Homo sapiens: one gene and its partners. The protein of the gene in region 2 interacts with the protein of the main gene of each other region in a pairwise test. Each region holds a gene or a part of one and is shown on either strand. Other genes may lie near its edges.

What was found.
Region 1: the proteins of LAMP2 (region 2) and JADE3 interact in binary tests that used the Homo sapiens proteins (3 or more experiments, as listed by UniProt).
Region 3: the proteins of LAMP2 (region 2) and MRI1 interact in binary tests that used the Homo sapiens proteins (3 or more experiments, as listed by UniProt).
Region 4: the proteins of LAMP2 (region 2) and CCNL1 interact in binary tests that used the Homo sapiens proteins (3 or more experiments, as listed by UniProt).

Annotation. Positions count from the first base shown.
Region 1 is NC_000023.11:47,048,418-47,055,464, forward strand, and holds part of JADE3 (protein Jade-3), read left to right. Parts: intron 1-5,740; coding exon 5,741-6,211; intron 6,212-7,047. UniProt on the Homo sapiens protein: Scaffold subunit of some HBO1 complexes, which have a histone H4 acetyltransferase activity.
Region 2 is NC_000023.11:120,459,272-120,466,318, forward strand, and holds part of LAMP2 (lysosome-associated membrane glycoprotein 2 isoform A precursor), read right to left. Parts: intron 1-7,047. UniProt on the Homo sapiens protein: Lysosomal membrane glycoprotein which plays an important role in lysosome biogenesis, lysosomal pH regulation and autophagy.
Region 3 is NC_000019.10:13,760,410-13,767,526, forward strand, and holds the start of MRI1 (methylthioribose-1-phosphate isomerase), read left to right. Parts: upstream 1-4,112; 5' UTR 4,113-4,179; coding exon 4,180-4,311; intron 4,312-4,461; coding exon 4,462-4,700; intron 4,701-5,544; coding exon 5,545-5,720; intron 5,721-7,117. Other genes in the region: probable splicing factor YJU2B, read left to right, coding at 1,890-2,028, 2,181-2,659.
Region 4 is NC_000003.12:157,147,053-157,150,194, forward strand, and holds the end of CCNL1 (cyclin-L1), read right to left. Parts: intron 3,118-3,142; coding exon 3,013-3,117; intron 2,926-3,012; coding exon 2,784-2,925; intron 2,545-2,783; coding exon 2,433-2,544; intron 2,334-2,432; coding exon 2,235-2,333; intron 1,538-2,234; coding exon 1,189-1,537; 3' UTR 501-1,188; downstream 1-500. UniProt on the Homo sapiens protein: Involved in pre-mRNA splicing. Functions in association with cyclin-dependent kinases (CDKs). Inhibited by the CDK-specific inhibitor CDKN1A/p21. May play a role in the regulation of RNA polymerase II (pol II).

The DNA of each region.
Region 1 (7,047 bases), about 73 Mb from region 2:
TCATAACAGACAAAAAGTTAAAACAACCCAAATGTCCATCAACTCGATGAAATGGGGTATATCCATACAATTATTTTTTGCCCATAAAAAGGAATGAAGTTCTAATACATGCTACAACATAGAGGAACCTGAAGAACATGCTAAGTGAAAGAAGCCAGACTCACACAGCCACATATTGTTGTAATTCCACTTATATGAAATGTCCAGAATAGGCACATCAATAGAGACAGAAAGTAGATTAGTAGTTGCTTGGGGCTGGAGTTGGTAACAGGGAGTAACTACAAATGGACACAAGATTTGGGGTTGGTGGTGATGAAAATATCCTGGGATTAGGTAGTGGCAATGGTTGCATGACTGTAAATATATTGAAAACCATTGAAATGTACACATTAAACTGGTGAACTTTATGGTATATAAAATATATCTTAATAAAGCTATTTCTGTCATTTCAGTGAATGAATATAATGACCATGCTGTAATGCACGTAGTAAAGTGTTTAAAGACACATGTATAAAAGATGCTTTGTACAAGTGCTATTTGCTTGCCACAATGAGAACAGTGCTATCTCAATTTTTTATTTTAAATTTGTAAAGATAAAAATATTTTTTAAATGGGCATAATAAAACCTCTCTATCACCTTCCGTGGTTACAGTGGAAATAAGTGAGATGTATGCAAAGGCATTTTGTTTAATAGAATGCGCCAGACATATGTTTTAGAAGAAAACAAATAGGTATCTGGTATCTGACTGGCACCTTTCTTCTTCTTTTTTTTTTTTTTTTTTTTCCCTGAGACTGAGTCTTGCTCTGTCGCCCAGGCTGGAGTGCAGTGGCGCGATCTCGGCTCACTGCAACCTCCACCTCCCAGGTTCAAGCAATTCTCTGCCTCAGCCTCCTGAGTAGCTGGGATTACAGGTGCCCGCCTGTAATTTTTAGTAGGGATGGGGTTTCACCATCTTGGCCAGGCTGGTCTTGAACTCCTGACCCATGATCCAACTGCCTCAGCCTCCCAAAATGCTGGGATTATAGGCGTGAGCCACCGCGCCCAACCCTTTTTTTTTTTCAGGGTCTCACTCCTATCGCCCAGGCCGGAGTGCAGTGGCACAATCACGGCTCACTGCAGCCTCAACTTCCCAGGCTCCCACCTCAGCCTCCCTAGTAGCTGAGACCACAGGTGTGCACCACCACACCCAGCTAATTTTTGTATTTTTTGTAGAGACAGGGTTTCGTCATGTTTCCCAGGCTGGTCTTGAACTCCTGGACTGTAACAGTCCTTGCGTCTTGGCCTCCCAAAGTGCTGGGATTATAGGCGTGAGCCACTGCGCCTGGCTCTTCTTCTTCTTTTTTTTTTTTTTTTTTTTTTTTGAGAGGGAGTCTCGCCCTGTCGTCCAGGCTGGAGTGCAATGGCGCGATCTTGGCTCACTGCAACCTCTGCCTCCTGGGTTCAAGCAATTCTCCTGCCTCAGCCTCCCAAGTAGCTGGGATTACAGGCGTGTGTCACTGCACCCGGCACTCTTCTTCTTTTTTTTAATGGTAATATTATTGTACGTTTTTTGTTGTTTTACAGTCTAGCTGGAGTGCAGTGGCACAATCGTGGCTCCTTTTAGCCTCGACCTCCTGAGCTCAAGTAATCCTCCCACCTCAGCCTTCCGAGTACCACAGGCGTGCACCACCACACTCTGCTAGTTTTTTTATTTTTATTAGAGACGAGGTCTCACTATGTTACCCAGGCTGGTCTCAAACCTTTGAGCTCAAGCGATCCTCTTGCCTCAGCCTCCCAAGGTGCTGGGATTATAGGCATGAGCCACCATGCTCAGCCCAAGTTTTATCTTTTAAATTGCAATTTTTATTAACACATTGTAGTTGTACATATTTGTGGGGTATAATTTGATGTCTTTATATATGTTGTATAGTCAAATCAGGATATTTAGCATATCTGTCATCTCATGCGTTTATCATTTGTTTATGGTGAGAACATTCAAAAGCCTCTCTTCTAGCTATTTTGTAAAATATAATACCCTTCTGTTAACTGTCGTCACCCTGTGCAATGGAACACCAGAACTTATTCCTCCCAATTATAACTTCGTACCCATTGACCAGCATTTTTCACCACCAAAATATATAGATCTCCAGCTATAAATACCACAGAATTACCTTTTTTTGAAAAGAGTTGGATTTTATGGCAGTTTCCTAAAAGGTATTATATTTTTCATATAAGTACCCAATTCTTACCTATGCATTATCTTTTATTTTGAGTAATTTATGTTTATATTTGTCTCTACATTCTATAAACATTCTATAAATTTGACCTGAGAAGATCTGTTTTTAGCTTCCCAATAATAGTAGTTTGATGTCACTTACTCATTCCCTTGAATAGAAAATCATTTGCTTTTTCTTCCCATATCTTTAACAGTTATTAAACAGCAAAAGAGTACTGTGCCCAACACTTTAAATCTTTTACTAAAGAATACCTTTTACTTTGTTTTTCAAACGTCTGACTAGTTTCTTAGCCAAGTGATAACAAAAGGTACCCAGGTAAAAGTACATCTTGAACTTTCATCATCCTCATTTTCGAGAGGCTTCAGTGTAATATAACAAACTTTTCTGATAGTGGTGTTAAAAGCCGGGGTGGACCATCTTAGGAGCTTCTTATCTGGAAGAATTCAGTAAGTGGCTAGATTACCACTTAATTGGAAAGTGGAGGGGGAGGTGTATAGAGTGGGGGATGGAGGCAGAAAATCAGGTACTCTCGAGGAAATTCAAGCAATAATAAATGTAAGGCTGGATTAGATGATCTTAGAATTATATTTCATCCCTGGAATTCTTTATCATATGAAATTAGTTTAAATGAAATATGGAATATGCCCCTTTAAAACTTTGACAGTTGCCAGTATCCTCTTAGGTGTTGAATTTCTCAATCTAAGATGATCTATTGGGCCTTTGCATTCTTTTTGTCTTTATTCATATGTAAGAATTAACACTTGGCTTTAACCATAAGAATTCCCAATATTTCCTTAGAAACGAATCTTCCCTTACTTTCCCCACTTCCTCTACATAAACACATAGATGCACTCATGCATTTTAAATCTTTGGGCAGCAGGGTGCAGTGGCTCATGCCTGTAATCCCAGCACTTTGGGAGGCCAAGGTGGGCGGATAACTTGAGGCCAGGAGTTCAAGACCAGACCAGCCTGGCCAACATGGTGAAACCCCGTCTCTACTATAAATACAAAAATTAGCCAGGCATGGTGGTGCACACCTGTAGTCCCAGCTACTCGGGAGGCTGAGGCAAGAGAATCGATTGAACCCAGGAGGCAGAGGTTACAGTGAGCCGAGATCACGCCACTGCACTCCAGCCTGGGCAACAGAGTGAGACTCTGTCTCCCAAAAAAAAAAAATTAGGCCTGGCACAGTGGCTTATGCCTGTAATCCCAGCACTTTGGGAGGCCGAGGTGGGCAGATCATTTGAGGTCAGGAGTTTGAGACCAGCCTGGCTAATTGGTGAAACCCCGTCTCTACTAAAATACAAAAATTAGCAGGACTTGGTGGCGCACGCCTATAATCCCAGCTACTCACAAGGCTAAGGTGGGAGGATCACTTGAGCCTGGGAGGCAGAGGTTGCAGCGAGCCAAAATCGCGCCACTGCACTCCAGCCTGGGCAACAGAGTGAGACCCAGTCTCAATCAATCAGTCAGTCTTTGGAAGGAAAGCTGTAACATTGTAACCATAACAAATAGTAATTAAGGCTAACTGAAGCACAGGAGTATAGTAGTCATGGGCCAGGTCCTTCCCCCTTTGCCCCCCCCTATGAATAGTCAGTACATACTGCATAGTAATGCTTAATAAATGTGTTAAATCTATGACTGAATGGCAGAATATTATAAACTTAATTTCAGATTGTCTGTAACCATATTGTTCAATAGAACTTTCCACAGTGGGCCAGGCACAGTGGCTCACACCTGTAATCCCAGCACTTTGGCATGCTGAGGCGGGCGGATCACCTGAGGCCAAGCATTCGAGACCAGGCTGGCCAACATAGTGAAACCCTGTCTCTACCAAAAATACAAAAAAATTAGCCAGGTGTGGTGGCAGGCACGTGTAGTCCCAGCTACTTGGGAGGCTGAGGCAGGAGAATCACTTGAACCCTGGAGGTGGAGGTTGCAATGAGCCGAGATTGTGCCACTGCCCTCCAGCCTCAGCAACAGAGTGAGACTCTGTCTCAAAAAAAAAAAAAAAAAAAAAAAAAACTTTCCACAGTGATGGAAATGTTTTATGTCTGTGCTGTCTAGTGTAGTTAAAATGTGGCTACTGTGACTGAGAAACTAAATTTTTTAATTATACATAATTTTAATTAAATTTAAGGCTAAGCGCAGTGGCTCACACCTGTAATCCCAGCACTTTGGGAGGCTAAGGCAGTCAAATCACTTGAGGTCAGGAGTTTGAGACCAGCCTGACCAACATAGTGAAACCCCATCTCTACTAAAAATACAAAAATTAGCCGGGCATGGTGGCACATGCCTGTAATCCCAGCTACTCGGGAGGCTGAGGCAGGAGAATTGCTTGAACCTGGGAGGCAGAGGTTGCAGTGAGCCGAGATTGCACCACTGCACTCCAGCCTGGGTGACAAAGTGAGACACCGTCTAAAAAAATTTTTTTAAAAAATGAAATAGCCACTCATGGCTACTTGGCCACCAAGTTGGACAGCTCAGTTCTATAACAACAATTTCACGGGGCATGGTGGCTCACACCTGTAATCCCAACGCTTTAGGAGGCTGAGGCTGGTGGATCACTTGAGCCCAGGAGTTCAAGACCAGCCTGAGCAACATAGATTCTCTATTTTTAAATATTTTAAAAAATTCTTTTTGAGATAGGTTCTCACTCTGTTGCCCAGGCTGGAGTACATTGGTGTGATCTCGGCTCACTGCAGCTTGGACCTCCCGGGTTCAGGCAATTCTCATGCCTCAGCCTCCCAAGTAGCTGGGACTACAGACATGCACCACCATGCCCAGAAAGCTTTTGTATTTTTAGTAGAGACAGGGTTTCGCCATGTTGCCCAAGCTGGTCTCGAACTCCTGGCCTCAAGTGATCCACCTGCCTTGGCCTCCCAAAGTGCTGGGATCACAGGCGTAAGCCACTGTGCTCTGGCCTAAAATTTTTATGTTTAAAAAAAAAATTCAAGAAGTTAGGTTACTTAGATATTGGAATTCCTATGACTTTTTTAGAACCAGTGGATGCTCTAGCAATAATACTCACTTTGTGTGTTTTCTTTTGTTTGTTTAGAAACATTTTCTGAGCAACTGCTTCTTCAATAGTTAATGACGATGCAAAATGAAAGACACAGCTTCTGTTTTTAAGATCTATCCCTAAGGACTTGACAATTGTTATAGGTACAGTGTGAAAAGTACCATTTTAAAAGCATTCATAGGGTGATGTGGGAGACACAGAGAAGAGACTACATGACTGTTTACAGGAGCCCAGGAAAGCATCTCAGAAAACTTGATGCTTGAATGCTTGAGCTGAAACCTCAAAAGGAGTGTTTGAATTATTTTTGGCCTCTGTGTTTGCTGTTTTCTGTAAGAACAGGTTTCTTGGGTTACTTGTAAAGCATCTGTTATGGTCAGTTTAGGACTAACTTTCTCCCGGTCTTTCTTTTGCTTCCTACAAGCTATCAATTTAGGTCCAGAAACATAGGTCTCTCCCTTTTCCTCCAACTCTGCTACCTTGACACCTATTTTCTTCCTACAGTGCTCTATAAAAAGCTGCATCACTGCCTTCCACGTCACCTGTGCCTTTGAGCACGGCCTAGAGATGAAGACCATCCTAGATGAGGGAGACGAAGTGAAGTTCAAGTCATATTGCCTCAAGCATAGCCAAAACAGGCAGAAACTTGGAGAAGCTGAGTACCCCCACCACAGGGCTAAAGAGCAGAGCCAGGCCAAAAGTGAGAAAACCAGCCTGCGGGCACAGAAGCTTCGGGAGCTGGAGGAGGAGTTCTATTCCTTGGTACGAGTGGAAGATGTGGCCGCAGAGCTGGGTATGCCCACGCTAGCTGTGGACTTTATCTATAACTACTGGAAACTGAAGCGGAAAAGTAACTTCAATAAGCCATTATTTCCTCCAAAGGAGGATGAAGAAAATGGGCTGGTGCAGCCAAAAGAGGAAAGCATTCACACTCGAATGAGAATGTTTATGCATCTACGCCAGGACCTGGAGAGGGTAAGGTGACCAGCTGTGACTAGTATATAGGCCTCGGTCTGTGTAGAAATGGAGGTCCCACTTCTGGTTTAATAATGGTCAGTCAGCTCATAATAGTGTGGGCTTCTGTGTCCTTGCTTATCTTCTGATCTCTTTATGGCCCCAGACATTGGGCTCTGTGTAAATTCTGACAGGCACATCCAGGGGATTTGGGAGGCCTCGGGTATATGCTCTATGAACTTTACATTTGAAATAAACTCTCATTTGGTTTACTTTTTATTCACTGTTGAGCCTAAATTGGCCCATCCATATTTTACTGACATATTTATGAGACTTTAGGCTGAAGAAAGAGTGAATTTTGTTCAGGAAAACACCAAATTAGAGTTTCACAAACTTGGCACTGTTGACATTTTGGACTGGATAGTTGTTTGTTGTTAGGGGGCTGTCCTTTGTTGTAGGGGCAATTTAAGATGTTTACCAGCATCCCTGGCCTCTACCCACTAGATGCCAGTAGCACCCGCACACACACCCCCAGCGTGACAACCAAAAATGTCTGCAAATTACCAAATTTGCTCTCCAGTTGAGAGCCACTCCACATGATAATTCAATATAACTCATGGTATATTTATCAGGTATCTACTAAATGAGATACTGCAGGGCTTCAAAGGTAAGTTAAGCCCTGTGTTTATCCTAGAGAATTTTCTAATTAAATGTAAATCTATAAATGGCTTGTGTTTTTTTTTCTCTGCTACCAGAATTTGAAAGAGAACTAATAGATTTGGCTCACTTTTAAAAATTTAAGACACTCACATATAGCACCTACTATTACTATTATTGCCAACACTGTCCTAAGCATT
Region 2 (7,047 bases):
TTGTCCCCTTGTTACAATTTCTGGCAGAAATCACCACCCACTATAAAAGCTGAAAACACTGGATACTTGCTTTCCCAGACTCCCTTGCAGTAAGGAGGACCACTTGTGCTAGGCTCTGCCTAACAAAGGTATCCACCCCACACTTTGAAAGGAGGGCTGCAAATGGAGCCAGGAATGGAACAGGGAGGGAGACAGGTGTGGAGTAACAGAAGCAGGATCAAGCTCCCAGGCAACAAGGCCAGCAGAGCAAGCTTCAATTTCACACTTGGCAGTGGTAGTGCAGTTCAGCAGCATGATCTGGGTTGTTGAATCCTGAACTGGGATTTGGTATATATAGCCAGGAGCACCAGAAATTCTGAGTTACCCAATATACCCCTTTAATAAACATTTGATATGTAACATATGTACAGAAACAGGCACAGTATAACAGATGTAAGGGAAAAGTGCACGTAACATTAAGTCTACAGCTCAAATAATTTCACAAACCAAAACCACCTGTGTCAAGAAACAGAACATTAACAGGTGTTGACCCACTGCACAGTTGAAAATCTGCATATTATTTTTGACTCCCCCAAAACTTAACTACTAATATCCTACTGTTGACTGGAAGCATTACCAACAACATAAACAGTCGATTCACACATATTTTGTATGTTATATATGTGTTACATACTGTGTTTTGAAAATAAAGCTAGAGAAAAGAAAATGTTAAGAAAATCATAAGGAGGGCTGGGCATGGTGGCTCACACCTATAATCCCAGCACTTTGGGAGGCTGAGGCAGACGGATCACTTGAGGTCAGGAGTTCGAGACCAGCCTGGCCAACATGGTGAAACCCCATCTCCACTAAAAATTTGCTGGGCTTGGTGGTGGTCACCTATAATCCTAGCTACTTGGGAGGCTGAGGCAGGAGAATCGCTTGAACCTGTGAGGTAGAGGTTGCAGTGAGCTGAGATCGCGCCACTGCACTCCAGCCTGGGCAACAGATAGAGACTCCGTCTCAAAAAAAAAAAATCATAACGAGGAGGAGGAAGAGGAGGGGTTGGTCTTGCTGTCTTCAGGGTGGTAGAGGTGAAATAAACTCATGTATAAGTAGATCCACACACAGTTCAAACTTGTGTTGTTCAAGGGTCAACTACACTTCCAAAGCCCTCCTTATTTCCCTTTCCCTTCCCAAGGGTTACTATTCCCTTCCCAAGGGTAACCATTATCCTGATTTCTGACACTATAGATTAATTTTATCCATTTTTCAACTTGATATAAATAAAATCATTCACTATGCTCTCTTTTGTGTCTGCTTTCTTTCCTCAATTTTAGGTTTTGTGAGATTCACCCATGTTATGCATAATTGCAGTCTGTGCTCACTGCTGTATAACCTTCTATGATCAGGTGAATACAGGCCAGGTGGGGTGGTTCACGCCTGTAATCCCAGCACTTTGGGAGGCCAAGGAGGGTGGATCACTTGAGGTCAGGAGTTCGAGACCAGCCTGGCCACCATGGCCAAATCCCACCTCTACTGAAAATATAAAAATTAGCTGGGCATGGTGGCACATGCCTGTAATCTCAGCTACTCAGGAGGCTGATACAGGAGAATCGTTTGAACCCGGGAGGCAGAGGTTGCAGTGAGCCAAGATCATGCCAATGCACTCCACCAGCCTGGGCAACAAGAATGAAACTCTGTCTCAAAAAAAAACAAAAACAAACAAACAAAAAAACTACTTATCTATGCTACCTTTAATGGGCATTTAGTTTCCAGTGTGATTCTATTACAAACACTGCTGCAAACATTCTTGCACATATTAGTAAACACATGTATGCGTGTATGTTGGCTGTATATCTAGGAATGAAACTGTGGGGCCAAAGGGTATGCATTATATCCCAGTTCTTTTTAATAAATTCTTTTCTGCTTAAAATCAATCAGATTGTATTTCTCTTCCTTGCAATTAAGAACCTGGGCTGATATGCTATCTGTTTTTTCAGTAGCCATTTTCTCCACAAAGCTTTCCCTGACTATAAAAGCCCTCAAGGAGCAGTAATAATGCACATCCCATTTCAGTATATTTTACATTATCCTGAATTATTCAGTTATTTTATAGCAGTAAATCCTGTCCCTCCTACTGTCATAAGCTCCAACACAGCAGTTTTCAACTGTCACTTCATAACAAACTGGTGTGCCATGGTAAATTATAGTATACAGTAAGTAATTTGTTACTAATAAAAAAAGTACCAAGTCTGTGAATGAATGATATATATGGATAGATTCAAGATTCCCTTTAGATAACATTTCTGTCACTCGTTTGAACTCCAGTATGCTCCCTTGATCAGATGATCTGATGTATCCCACAACCCCTAGCAGTGTGTCTTTTATATGAATGTCATCTATCATGAGTGTCATGGTAGGGGACACCATGTGTATTACTTTTCCTCTATCTCCTATCATTCCAAGTAGTGCTGAATGCATATTAGATTTTCAATAAATACTGATTAATTATATCAAGGTGAAAACACACTGCAATAGGGACCCAAAACATAGCTTAATCTAATTACAGAGAGGCCAGTCCTTTAGCTCTTCCAAATCTTGAACATATCAGTCTTCTGGATATTCCCTCAAACCCCATGTTGGGTTTCACTTCAATAAATTTTGACATGGATGTCAAGCTAGGAACAGAGCTTTTCCCAAAAGGTAAGTTTACAGTTGAAATATTTACACTTTATTAAAAAGTATCTAGCAAGCAATTTCCATCCTTATTGCTGTGTTTGATTTTACAATACCCAATTTTTAAAAGGCTTTATGACATTAAAAAACCATAGATGAATATATTCTAGAGTGTGTAATTTTAGAGCTGAGAGTTTATTCTCTAAATAAAAGAAAAAGGTATGCCTCAAAATCAACCGTTCTCAAAGTCAAATATCCTCTCAATCCTGTTTTCCAAAAAGGTCATTTGTAAATTCTTTTAGAATGCAGACCTTGACCGGGCAGTGGCTCACACCAGTAATCCTAGCACTTTGGGAGGCCAAGGGGGGCAGATCACTTGAGCTCAAGAGTTCAAGACCAGCCTGGGCAACATGGCAAGACCCCATCTATACTAAAAATACAAAAGAATAGCTGGGTGTGATGGTGCATGCCTGTGGTCTCAACTACTCGGGAGGCTGACATGGGAGGATCGCTTGAGCCCATGAGGCAGAGGTTGCAGTGAGCCAAGATCACTCCACTGCACTCCAGCTGGGGGAATGGAACAAGACCCTGTCAAAAAAAAAAAAAAAAACCTCTCACAGAGAACACAGACCTTACTTCCCCAAGTGTATGACACTGCAAAAAGTGGCTAGGTTTTTGCAAGTCTATTTGACCCAAAGTATAGCTGAAAACATAAACACACAAAATTAGGGGTGGGGGAAGAACATAATGCTAGCAATAAAACAAAACCAATAAAAAGAAACCAAACAATGATCCAAGATACAATGGATTGATTATATAATGAAGTGATTAAGAGTCCCCATTCCTGGAGTGGAAGAGCTAGAACTCAAATCTGGCAGTCCAACTTCCTAGCTGTGAGACTTTGGGCAAGTTACCCTTGTTTAGAATTATAGTGCATATTTCTCCAATAGGTTCTTTGAAAGCATATAAACCCTTCAGAGCTAAAAGAAATTTGCCAAACAAGTTAGATACCAATTTACAAGTCTCCTTTTTAGTAAACACAGCACCTAAAGGGAACCTTCCCAAGTTTTAGCTTTATGTTTACTTTCATCATATTAAATTCTGGACTCTTGTCCTCAAACTCATGAATTTAGAATGATGTTGAGCAAAAGGTCTTTTTAAAATACAGGACACAGAGGCATACGGTACCTATTTATCTTTGTTTTCTATTCAGAGTGATGGTTTTCCTACAAGTTTAAGTCAGATTAACTGTTTCTCCTTTATAATTCCTAATAATAGGTACACTCATTGCATTCAGTTACTTTATACCCTTGCTTTTGGTAAGTTTCTTAAAGGAGAAAAGCAATATGATTTTAAAGTAAGAATGTTGAACACATGAAAAAGAGTATTAAAAGTTAATAAAAATATGTTTTTAAGCTATAAAATGACTTAATTTGTTAAGGCCAAAGAGTGGGTAAGGAAACAAGATTCAACACTACTCAACTAATGGAAAGTGCTTATTGTTGAGCAGTGTTTGGCACACCTCCAGAATTCTTTCACAATGCACAGCAGGATACCAACAAGTACTTATAAAGTATACTTTTGGGTCTGAGGGGATCTCTGATCACTTTAATAAGAAATTATGATCAGAATACTTTTGCACTACAGAAAGAAGAGCAGCCTTCCTGCATCAAGGGTCATTTAAATCAGCTCCAGTGCTACGAAATAATGCTTGGTTATAGACAAAATCTACCCAAAGATATAGGGGAAGAAAGCTGTTCTTTTGGGACATATTTGAGTATCTATAACCCTATCAGATGTGACAATCTGATATTTGGGACATATTTGAATATCTATAACCCTATCAGATATGATAATCAATGACTAACAAACTAATCTGGTATTTGGGACATATTTGAATATCTATAACCCTATCAGATGTGATAATCAATGACTAACAAACTAACAAGCCTGTCCTTTCTTATCTTCTAGCTTGACTTCTGTTTTTCGTTTTTTTTTTGTTTTTTTTTAGGGTTCAGAATTTTTCAGTCCTTTACAGTATCTCTATTATAACTAGAATAATTTGGCAGAACCTCGAAATCAAAGTTATCAGTTAAATGAAATGTGTTAAGCCTATAGAAAAATCTTAGTGCTTGTTTTCTCTCAGAGAAAACCTAACTTTGTGAAAACCTAACTCTCCTCACCAAGGAACTCCTAATTCTCCATATTACCCCCTTCGAGACTACGGAGGTATATCTGAAGGAGTACAGGTAAGAAACTAGCATTATTATATGGGATTATACATTAGTAAATTACTGTATAATTATCCGTACTGCTTAGCACTGATCTTGAAGTTTTCAATCCAAAAGAACTTCTTGCAAAACATCATTTAAAATTCATGGAAGAAAAAGGAGACTAAATGAGTCTAGTTTACCACCATATCCCTAGTGCCCACCAATGAATATCTTCAACAAAAATTCACTACGGGTTAACCATGTACCAGACCCTATGCTAGGTAGGCAATGGGAAGTAACAGTACATAAGATCGTCTCTGCTCTTAGAGACTGCTACCATAGGAGAGACTTGACTAAAACTAGGGGGAAACAAAAAAGCGTGGAAAATAGGCTAGTAACCTAAGATTTTGCAAATGATAAGATTTATTCCTATTTCCCCAGATGGTCACATGGCTGGCCTCCTGCCAACACCCAGGTCTCTGCCCAAATGTCACCCGATAACGGAAGGCCCTCTGACCACATAATATAAAGAAGGATCATCCACCATCACCCATTCCTATCATCTACTCATTCTCCTTTCTCATTACCTGTGTAATTTTCTTCATAGTGTTTTTGTTTTGTTTTGTTTTGAGACAGAGTTTTGCTCTTGTCCCCCAGGCTGGAGGACAGTGGCATGATCTCGGCTCACTGCAACTTCCACCTCCTGGATTCAAGCAATTCTCCTGCCTCAGCCTCCCGAGTAGCTGGGACTACAGGTGCTGGCCACCATGCCCTTGTATTTTTAGTAGAGATGGGGTTTCACCATGTTGGCTAGGCTGGTCTCGAACTCCTGACCTCAGGTGATTTGCCCACCTTGACCTCCCAAAGTGCTGGGATTACAGGCGTGAGCCACCATGCCCGGCCTCTTCATAGTGTTTATCACTATCTGACATTATATTATTTATCTGTTGAGCTTTCTTCTCCCATTAAAATGTAAGCTCCATGAGAGCAGGAACCTCATCTGTCTTATCCATTCCTCTGTCCCTTTCACCTAATATAGTGGCTGGGACACAATAGGCATTCAGTAAACGTGTGGAAGGGAGAGGCTCCTACCAGTAACATACACTAAGAATATTTCTGTGAGGTTTTTCCCACCCAGAAAAGCCTCAAACCTAAAAAAAAAAAATTCTGAACCCTAAAAAAACAAACAAACAAACCAAAAAACAGAAGTCAAGCTAGTTATAAGAATCAATAACCACAGAAGAATCCTGAAATCTATGATATCACAAAAGGACCATAATTAGGCAATTATATAAAGAAAGGATTTTCACCCACTATCCACTTTATAACACCTCTAAATCATATAGCTTCTCTTCGGAAAGTTGTCTGGTCAGTTACAATTCATCCAAATAAACACCAGCATAATTTAATCTCTATGAAAAAGACCAATATATAGCCTCTAAGAATCCTTTTCTGTACTTATTCTAAAGCTGCTGTTTTTAAAAGGTTATGGGTGAAGCTGGGATAGAGTTATAAAGTTACAAAGTCAAACTGGCACAGCTAGAGCACTAATGCTAATAAGACTATAAATTTAGGACAGGTCCTCCTTCATTGGCACTCCGTACAGTACCCAGGCACAGTTCTAGCTACATAGTAGGTACTTTACAAATATTTATTGATTTAGCTACATATTAGGTACTTTACAAATATTTATTAAGTTTTCAAAAACCTATTATTGGTATCCATTTTGATATAGAAAAGTAACTTGTGCAAAACCCACCAAGCAACTGCTAAATTCTTGACAGAAAAAGCTATATGGGAGGACTTTGGGCTCCACACTGAACCAAGAGCCATCAGAAAATGCAGCTGTATAGAAAAATGGTTTCTATTTCATCCTGGAACCTCTTAAAAATCAGATCTAGGTACATTATTAATATTTACTTTTCCAAATCCTGCTCTGAACTTGGAGGCGGAGGGAATCAATCTTGGAAATTTTCCAAGAGGAAGAATCTAGTTAGTCCTGATCAATAAATGGCAAACTAGCAGATGAGCTGATGGGTTCTTTTATGTGCTTCTTTTTGCATGTTTATTTTCTGCAGTGAGTAAGCATTGCTTTTGTAAAAACAAAACAAAAAAGCTTTCATTAAAAAACAAAAAAAAATTTAATGACATGAAAGCCAACAAGTAGGACAACTATTAT
Region 3 (7,117 bases), on a different chromosome or scaffold from region 2:
ATTGGTGAGGACGTAGCCCTTCTGACTTAATTACTTCCCCAAATGCCTCACATCTTTTAACACTGTCAACGTTGAGGATTAAGCTTCAACATATCAATTTGGGGGACACAGACATTGAGACCATAGCTCACCCCTACCTCACCATGCCATGGGAGATACCTACCTGGTTGCCTCCTTTTATTTATTTATTTTTTTTCTTTTTGTGACTGGGTCTCACTCTGTTGCCCAGGCTGGAGTACAGCGGCAAATCATGTCTCACTGCAGCCTCGATGTCCCAGGTTCAAGCAATCCTCCCCACTAAGCCTCCCAAGTAGCTGGGACCCACAGGCATGAGCCATCACACCTGGCTAATGTTGGGTTTTTTGTGTTTTGTTTTTGCTTAGACTGAGTCTCGCTCGTCGCCCATGCTGCAGTGCAGTGGCATGATCCCGGCTCACTGAAGCCTCCACCCCAGGTTCAAGCAATTCTCCTGCCTCAGCCTCCCAAGTAGCTGGGATTCCAGGTTCCCACCACTGTGCATGGCTAATTTTTGTATTTTTAGTAGAGACTGGGTATCACCATGTTGGCCAGGCTGGTCTCGAAATCCTGGCCTCATGTGATCCACCCACCTCAACCTCCCAAAGTGCTAGGATTACAGGCGTGAGCCACTGCATCTGACCTGGCCACCACATTTTAAATGGAACCTCTTGGCTGGGCGCGGTGGCTCACATCTGTAATCCCAGCACTTTGGGAGGCTGAGGCAGGCGGATCACGAGGTCAGGAGATCGAGACCATCCTGGCTAACATGGTGAAACCCCGTCTCTACTAAAAATGCAAAAAAAAATTAGCCAGGTGTGGTGGCGGGTGCCTGTAGTCCCAGCTACTTGGGAGGCTGAGGCAAGAGAATGGCGTGAACCTGGGAGGTGGAGTTTGCAGTGAGCTGAGATCGTGCCACTGCACTCCAGCCTGGCCGACAGAGCAAGACTCTTGTCTCAAAAAAATATAGAATTAAACTAAATTAAAAAATAAATGGAACCGCCCAGCCCATCCCCTACCCACCTGTCCTGCATTTTTTTTCTCCTTATCACTGTCTCACCACTAGAGGCCAGCTCCACCAGGGCAAGGGTTTTTCCCTGCCTGCCACTGTATGCCGAGTGTCCAGAACAAAGCCTAGCACAAGGTGGGTATCCCAGAAATATTTGTGGGATGAGGCCGTGCGTGGTGGCTCACACCTGTAATCCCAGTGCTTTGGGAGGCTCAGGTGGGAGGATTGTTTGAGGCCATGAGTTGGAGACCAGCCTGGGCAACATAGTGAGACCCCATCTCTACAAAAAAAAATTTTTTTTTTTTTTTGAAACAGTCTCCCCCCTTTCGCCCTGGCTGGAGTGCAGTGACAACGATCTCAGCCCACCGCAACCTCCACCTCCCCGGTTGAAGTGATTTTCATGCCTCAGCCTCCCAAGTAGCTAGGACCATAGGCGCATGCCACCATGCCTGGCTAATTTTTATATTTTTAATAGAGACAGGATTTTGCCTTGATGGCCAAGCTGGTCTCAAACTACTGGCCTCAAGGGATCCACCCGCCTCAGCCTCCCAAAGTGCTGGGATTACAGACATGAACTACCAGGCCCAGTCTCTACAAAAATAAATGTTTTAATTAGCTGGGCGTGGTGGTGCACATCTGTAGTACTGGATACTTGGGAGGCTGACATGAGAGAATCGCTTGAGCCCAGGAGTTCGAGGCTGCAGTGAGCTATGATTGTGCCACTGCACTCCAGTCTGGGCGACAGAATGAAACTGTCTCAAAAAGAGTAAATGAGACCCCGAGAGTTGGAGCAGTGCCCCCTAGTACACAGAAGAGACAGGGCTTTGACACCCCCTATCTCTGGTGTTCTTGGCCCTCAACACAGGAAAAGAAAAAAGCCATCCAGGAGGAGGAGGAGAGAGACCAGGCCTTGCAGGCCAAGGCGAGCCTGACCATCCCGCTGGTGCCCGAGACGGAAGATGACCGCAAGCTGGCGGCTCTGCTGAAGTTCCACACCCTGGACTGTGCGTAGGAGGCCAGGGGGAAAAGGGGACAGGGAGGCTCAGAGTTGCCTGGAGATGGGGGGTCCTCAGCCATGAGTGGACTCTGGTCTACCAGAGGGCAGTTCTGGACCCCCTCCCCTGCCGCCCCTGAAATGTCCTCTCCTCTCCTCTAGCCTACGAGGACAAGCAGAAACTCAAGCGGACCGAGATCATCAGCCGCTCCTGGTTCCCCTCTGCCCCCGGATCCGCCTCCAGCAGCAAGGTCAGCGGCGTCCTGAAGAAGCTGGCACAGAGCCGCAGAACCGCGCTTGCCACCTCCCCCATCACCGTCGGGGACCTGGGCATCGTGCGGCGGAGGTCTCGGGACGTCCCGGAGAGCCCCCAGCATGCGGCCGACACCCCCAAGTCTGGGGAACCGCGGGTACCAGAGGAGGCTGCCCAGGACCGGCCCATGTCCCCCGGAGACTGTCCTCCGGAAACAACTGAGACCCCCAAGTGCAGCAGCCCGAGGGGGCAGGAAGGGAGCCGTCAGGACAAGCCCCTGTCGCCAGCAGGCTCCTCCCAGGAGGCAGCTGACACCCCCGACACGCGGCACCCCTGCAGTCTCGGCTCCTCCCTCGTGGCGGACTACTCCGACTCGGAGAGTGAGTGAGCGATCCCCATCCTGGAGACTGGACCCGCTCTAGAGGCCCGGACACACCCAGGAGGCCCCTCACAGACTGCAGACCCCCGGCTCGCCCACCAGCCCTGGGAGAGCTCAGATGCCGCATCCTCCCCAGACCGCGCCTTCCTGCAACCGTGGAGTTATTTATTTGGTCCTGGTGAGGGTGTTTGTGCCTTGTGAGACTCCGTACATTAAAGACCTGTCTCTTCTTCCCTGTCTTGGGTTGTTAGATGGACCCTGGGGCTGCCCCCCCACCCCCCCACCTTGACCAAGCTTGGTAGGCCTCTCATCAGCAAATGCTGGTATAGGGTCATAGCTGTGACCACAGACATGGTCCCCTTCCAGAGTAACAAGAGTCTCAAGGTGGTGGTCCCGGTTGGCCAGGAATCAGGACAGACTTCCTGGAGGAGGAGGCATGGGCCAAGTGTGAAGGGTGAAAAGGGGGCCAGGAACCACACACACAAGGCCAGGGACAAGGCACACGGGGTACCCAGGATGTGTGCCAGATGCAGCAGGGGCTGGAGCACACAGGTGTGAGCTTTTTATTATACCCAGCCCAGGGGTGGCCCATGGAAAAGCCCCCCGTGCATGTTACTTTTGGGGTTTTTTTGTTTTGTTTTTGAGACCGAGTCTTGCTCTGTCACCCAGGCTGGAGTGCAGTGGCGCGATCTCGGCTCACTGCAACCTCTGCCTCCTGGGTTCAAGTGATTCTTCTGCCTCAGCCTCCCGAGCAGCTGGGACTACGGGTGTGCGCCACCACGCCCAGCTAATTTTTTGTATTTTTAGTAGAGACTGGGTTTCACCATGTTGGCCAGGCTGGTCTCGAACTCCTGACCTCAAGTGATCTGCCCGACTCGGCCTCCCAAAATGCTGGGATTCCAGGCGTGAGCCACAGCGCCTGTCCTGCATGTTACTTTTGAATGAAACCGAGCAGAAAATGGCCCAGAAACAGCCTTGCATCCATCAAGGGGCACACGACCCCCCACTACCTCCCCCTCAACCTTGGAAGATCATTTAACAAATTCTTTGGTTTGAACACTTGATGTTACCTTGCCACTGGGGATACATCCCTAACTCTAGACAGCAGGTTGTTAAACACGGGGCCTGGTATCCACTAGGCGTCCCATAAATGCTGCCACTTTTGTGGTTCCGAGGAGGCGGCTCACTCCGTTCGGGCTTGGCAGGAGTCGTGGAGTGGGTTCGGCCACGTGGAATCCGCGTCCTGGGAACCCGTGGAATCCGCGTCCTGGGAACCCGTGGAATCCGCCTCCTGGGAACCCGTGGAATCCGCCTCCTGGGAACCCGTGGAATCCGCCTCCTGGGAACCCGTGGAATCCGCCTCCTGGGAACCCGTGGAATCCGCCTCCTGGGAACCCGTGGAATCGGGTTGGATGCGCATGTGCGTGTCTCTTTTTCCGGGGGAGGCTCCGCCCACGGCCCCGCCCCGCTCCCAAGTGCGCGCGGACCCCTAGCTCCCTCTGAGTTGCGCTGGGCTTGGCTGCTGCACCATGACCCTGGAGGCGATCCGCTACTCGCGGGGCTCCCTGCAGATCCTAGACCAGCTGCTGCTGCCCAAGCAGAGCCGCTACGAGGCGGTGGGCTCGGTGCACCAGGCCTGGGAGGCCATCCGCGCCATGAAGGTGCAGCGGGGCGGCGGGGCGGCGGGGCGGCGGGGCGGCGGGGCGGCGGGGCGGCGGGGCGGCGGGGCGGCGGGGCGGCGGGGCGGCCGGGTTGGAGGTGGGAGTGCGCCCGCGCCTGCAGCTTCCGACGCCCAAATCCCTGCCCCGCAGGTGCGGGGCGCCCCGGCCATAGCCCTGGTGGGCTGTCTCAGCCTCGCCGTGGAGCTGCAGGCGGGCGCCGGGGGACCGGGACTCGCCGCGCTCGTGGCCTTCGTGCGCGACAAGCTGAGCTTCCTCGTCACCGCCCGGCCCACCGCTGTCAACATGGCCCGCGCCGCCCGCGACCTGGCTGATGTTGCAGCCCGGGAGGCCGAACGGGAGGGCGCTACGGAAGAGGCGGTCCGGGAGAGGTACGGGGATCTGGTACCAGGCACGGCGCTGAGCAGGAATTATATTGACTCTTTTTAAGTACAGTGACCCACTATACAGATGGGGAAACTGAGGCACGGCGACCTTAAGTCCCTTGTCCAGGGCCCCACAGATGGGGAGACTGAGGCACGGCGACCTTAAGTCCCTTGTCCAGGGCCCCACAGATGGGGCCCAGAGTCTAGCCTGGGCAGCCTGGCCCTGAAACCTAACTCCTTAATCGTGCCTCCCCTGAATACACGCAGCCCCTTATCCGCCCTTGGAGGCCCTTTTTAGTATCTCCGTGTTCTCTTGGTTTCTGCTTTTGAGGAACTTTTTTTCCTGTCCTGGTCCCCTTCCTGCCATCTTTTTCCCCCCACTTCCTTTCTGCTCCAGCCCTCCCTGCAATGTCACTTTACCCCACCAAGCTCGAGCCTGCCTTACAGCCTTTGCACGTGCCATTGGTGCGGGCCAGGTATCCATAGCGCCCTCCTCCACCATTCTATATGATCCAGCTCACCCGCTGCTCTCTGTTGCCTGATTCTGCCGGCTTTTCCTTCATTTTATTATCTCTTCATCAGCTGGCTCACTCACCCCAGTGTCAACTCCACAGGAGCAGAGATTTTTGTCTTGTTTACTGCTGGGTCATACCGGAACTGCTTGGTAAACATGTCTTTGCATGAATGAACGGAGTGACACTTCGGTGGCCCTGGCCGAAGGGTCCAGGCCCCACAGCAATGAGAGGCTTTGAGCAGGAGGGCTCCAGGACAGCAGCGTTAGGCAGAGAGGAGGCGTTGGCCTGGGCCCCGGGTCCTGGTGGCTGGTGCTGAAAACTCCTTGTCACCCCAGAGTGATCTGCTGCACCGAGGACATGCTGGAGAAAGACCTCAGAGACAACCGAAGCATTGGGGACCTAGGAGCCCGCCACCTCCTGGAGCGGGTGGCCCCCAGCGGTGGCAAGGTGACTGTGCTGACCCACTGTAACACTGGTGCTCTGGCCACCGCTGGCTATGGTACAGCCCTAGGTGAGAGGGCCTCCTCAGGGGGTAGGGGAGGGCCTTCTAGGAACTTTTTTAGATACAAGAGAAAGAATCCCAAACCCAAACCACTTTATCCACAAAAAAAATGGGAAGGTACTAGTTCTAGTACGGAAACACTTATACAGTTGGCTTCAGGTATGGCAAGATCAAGGGGCTCAACCAGTAGCATCAGGACCTATCTATCTCTGTGCTTCAGCTCTGCCCTCCTTCATCTTCAGGTTCCATGGGCTGGCAGGCGGCTGTTAGGGTCCAAATCATGAGGAAAAGAGCCTCCTATACTAGAAAAGTCTCCTTGTATCTCAGGGGGTCCACTAGGGCACCTGCCCATCCCAGAGCAGTCATTCGATGGGCCCCGCCTGAGCCATATGCCTAGAGCCAGGGCAGGACGTGGACTCCAGGAGGAACTGGGGAGAAGGGAGTGAGCAGAGAAAGATTAGGTAGCTGTGACCAGGAGACAGGGGGAGTGGGCTGTAGGGGGCCAAGGCAGCAGATTCCACTTGACCCTAAATTCACCAGGAAATTTCCCTACCTGCCTGAGTCCCACCTTCATCCCTGGGAACTGAGGCCTTAATGGAAAGACCTCTGCCTTTGATTCATTCACTCACCCAGCATTTAGTAAGCACCTGCTGTGGCTCAGACACCGCCATTTGCTGGGGACGCAGCAGTGAACAAAACAGACAAAATCTCTGCTCTCAGGGGTCCCAGGGAAGCAGAAGGAACAGTCAACAGGCAAAATAAGTACAGTCATCCTTCAATATCTGTGGGGGACTGGTTCCAGGACCTCCCACAGATACCAAAATCCATGGATGCTCAAGTCTCTGATATAAAAATGCCATCATATTTGCATGACCTATGCACATCCACATATATATATATATATATATATATATATATTTTTTTTTTTTTTTTTTTTTTTTTTTTTGAGACAGAGTCTTGCTCTGTCGCCCAGGCTGGTGCAGTGGCATGATCTCAGCTTACTACAACCTCTGCTTCCCGGGTTCAAGAGATTCTCATGCCTCAGCCTCCTGAGTGTCTGGGATTATAGGCGTGAGCCACTACGCCCAGCTAATTTTTATATTTTTAGTAGGGACGGGGTTTCACGACATTGGCCAGGCTGGTCTCGAACTTCTGACCTTAGGCGGTCCGCCAGCCTCGGCCTCCCAAAGTGCTGGGATTACAGACGTAAGCCACAGTGCCCAGCCCACCCCTATATTTTAAATCGTGTCTAGATTGCATATCATAGCTAGTCCCATGTAAATACTATGTAAATTGTTGTTACTGGCTAGGTGTAGTGGCGGTGCAGGCCTGTAATCAGGAGGCTGGGGTGGGAGGATTGCTTGAACTCAGAAGTTCTAGACCAGCCTTTGCAACACAGCAAGACC
Region 4 (3,142 bases), on a different chromosome or scaffold from region 2:
TAACTTTATTTTTAAAAATATCCTTAGCAGTAATACATCTTCCTCTTTGTGGGTGTATTTTATTTCTTGAAACAGCAACAAATCACTTGGAGCCAAGTCTAGTGGACAATTAAAGTAGGTAAAATAAATGTAATGGAGACCTTAGTGTAATTATAAAGCGATGCAACATTTTGACTCTGTAAACTGATTTCCAAAATGTTGAAAAAAATAGTAAATGTGAGTAACTTGAAAACATTCATCTGGATAGAAATTCCGGCTTTTTCATCAAAACTTCACTTCTTTGTGATCAGCTTGTATTCTATCAACCACTCAAGTTCAGGGGCCTCACATTTTCTCCTAGCCTACGTAAAAATCGTAACATTAAATGCCTAAATTATACAGAACTGTTAAAGCTCAATAGTTACTAAGTTTTGGTTCATTCAATAGGGTACCTCATTTCAGAAATAGTACTTAAATCTGACTCAAAATTACCTTATGACACCATTCAAAAGCAAATCAGGTTTTTTGGTTTAGTGCTAAAATATAACATTTAATGTCACATTGTTGGGCGACTCCCATTTACTTTTTCCATATATACAGTGAAGACTTACAATAGCTCACAATGCAGTTAAGAATTGCATTTTAATAATCTCAAACTACCATCTAATGGAGGAAAGAATAAGTTTGTCAGAAAACCAGTACAGCCATTTTGCTATTAAAATTTTCCTTTTTAATAATTTATTTAAATAAGGTATTTGAAGCAGTTTAGAAAAAACAAGATTTGTATTTTATTTCCTTGTAAAAATCTTTACACATGCAGACAAACCAGTGTTAAGAAAGTATTCACCATCATTTAAACAAATAACCACTTAAATAGAACAGTGTCTGCAATTTTATCTGTATAAAAATAAGATACATTTTTACAGAATTCACGCTCCAGTTCTTATAGCAATAAACAATACACAACTATAATAAAGTACAATTGAACCTGACCATGGTTTTTAATTAGATACTGCTAGGGCATTTTAATGTGCAAAAAAATTAACATAGTTCTTTTCAAAAGAAACTGTCCTCAGTGTTCTAGAGACCTAGAGGGTTTCAAGAAATCAAATCCTAATCAGTTTGCGTTTAATGTTTTTGATTGAGTCCATACATCACACTGTAGATAGGCAAAACCAAGAACTGATGCAGGCTCAAAGGAAGAGAAAGTCAGCGCCTGTGCCTGCCATGTCCTGAGCGACTGCCACCATGGTGCTTGCTTTTATGGGACCTCTCAAAGGAGCGAGATCGTTCACGCCTGTCCCTATGATGTCCCCTTTCATGCCTGTGTTTCTTGGCTGCATCTGAGTGATCCCGAGACTTGCTCTGAGATCGAGAACGAGATTTTTTCCTTTTATGACCATGTCTGTTTGAACTTTTTAAATCATCTCTGGTATGCTTGGCCTTAAGGTGAGGAGAACCATGATTATGATGTCTTCGAGGGCTTTCACTGTGACTGCGGGACCTGCTTCTTGATCTCGAGCTGTATGTTCCAGATCGACTCCGCCTATTATTATAGCTTAGATAATAAAAATTTGAAGTTTAGGTTCAGTTTCTATGGGGAACAGATTATTCCGGTGGTTGCTCATAACAGGTTCAAAACAAAACTACCAGCTACATAAATGACAAACCAGAACTTTTCAAAATCTCCCCACCCCTCACTGCTGTATGCCCAAGCCTATATATAACATATTAAATCTTAAGCAAATGTTCTTATGTCTTTATTCCAAGGGGAGTAATTAGCAATTTTTATAGTGTCCTAGAGCTATGCTTTTTATTAAGTATCTCCCACATGTTCAAAAGACATTGAAGAGCCACGAAGAGCTAACAATCTAATTACAGGCCTAACTAAAGAAGATTCATTGACTGGTTAATTTGATTATTGGTTATTAATAAGGGGTTAATGAAACACATTTTCTAACTGAAATTAAAAAAAAAAAAAGAAGTTTTCACATTATGAACAATACTATGGCCCTCAAGCACTTTGTGGGTAGCTCCTACACTTCTCCAAAAAACATGGGAGAAAATATAACAGAATGCCATTAAGATACTGTATGTCCAGAACATCTCCAAACTCATTTCTCATAATTTGCCTCATACTAAAAGCCTAATTCTAACCTAACTTTGAAAATAATCTATGTTCAATTTTTAAAGAAAAAGCAATAACCTTTAAAAACTCCAAATAAGACTGCTTCCCTAAGAAAACATTTACTTACTGTCTTCTTGGAGTATGTGATCTAGAACGTGATCGTGTTCTTGACCTCGATCGACTTGCACTTCTGCTATTTCTACTTCTCTTGCTGTCTTTTCTTACACTTCAAAAAATCATGACATATTAGTTACAAACTTAGTGTGTTAAAAAGTAAACACATAAAAGATTCCTCAAGCCAGTTTTCCAGCCCAAGTATACTCACCCATTGTAAGGGCTTTTGGAAGCCTGTTGTCTATCCTCAGGTTCTTTTTTGACTGTCTTCACATTAATGGAGATTGGTGATTTCTCTTCAGCTTTTACTTCTCTTGGTGATGCTTTTAAAAGATATAATAACAACATGTTAACTACTGGATTTAACAGAGGGCCAAAAGTTGTTTCTAAATGTAACTCAAAGTACCATGCTTCCGCTTCCATGTTGGTTGACTGCCATGAGAGAACATAGCAGCAGTTTCCTAACATCATTTTTCTCTATGCAACTTTCAAATGTAAAAGCTCTCTAATAAAGACACACTTTCAGTGCCCCCAAGTCATTTTAATTCTAAATACATCTTACATGGCTTGGAGGCTGGAGAAAATCCACCCAGGGTTGAAAGGGCTGGAGTTCCATCCGGATTCAATCCCTTTGCTTTTAATTTGGCTTCTTGTAAGGCTACTTTTCTTTTTTCTACTTCTTTTTCCAGTAATTCATAGTTTGGCTGTTGGAGGAAAAAAAAGTTAGTATTTCTTCCTTAGAGTAGCTTGGACTCTTAGCATGTTGGCACAAACGAGTAAATAGAGAATACCTTTTTTCTGGTATAAAGCCTAAGTGTTTCTATGCAGATTTCCTGGATTTCCTCTTCTGTAGTACCAAAAAGAAGAAACCAATGGGGACGAGTTGGCAACGGAATCTAAACCATAAGAACAGAATGTTTT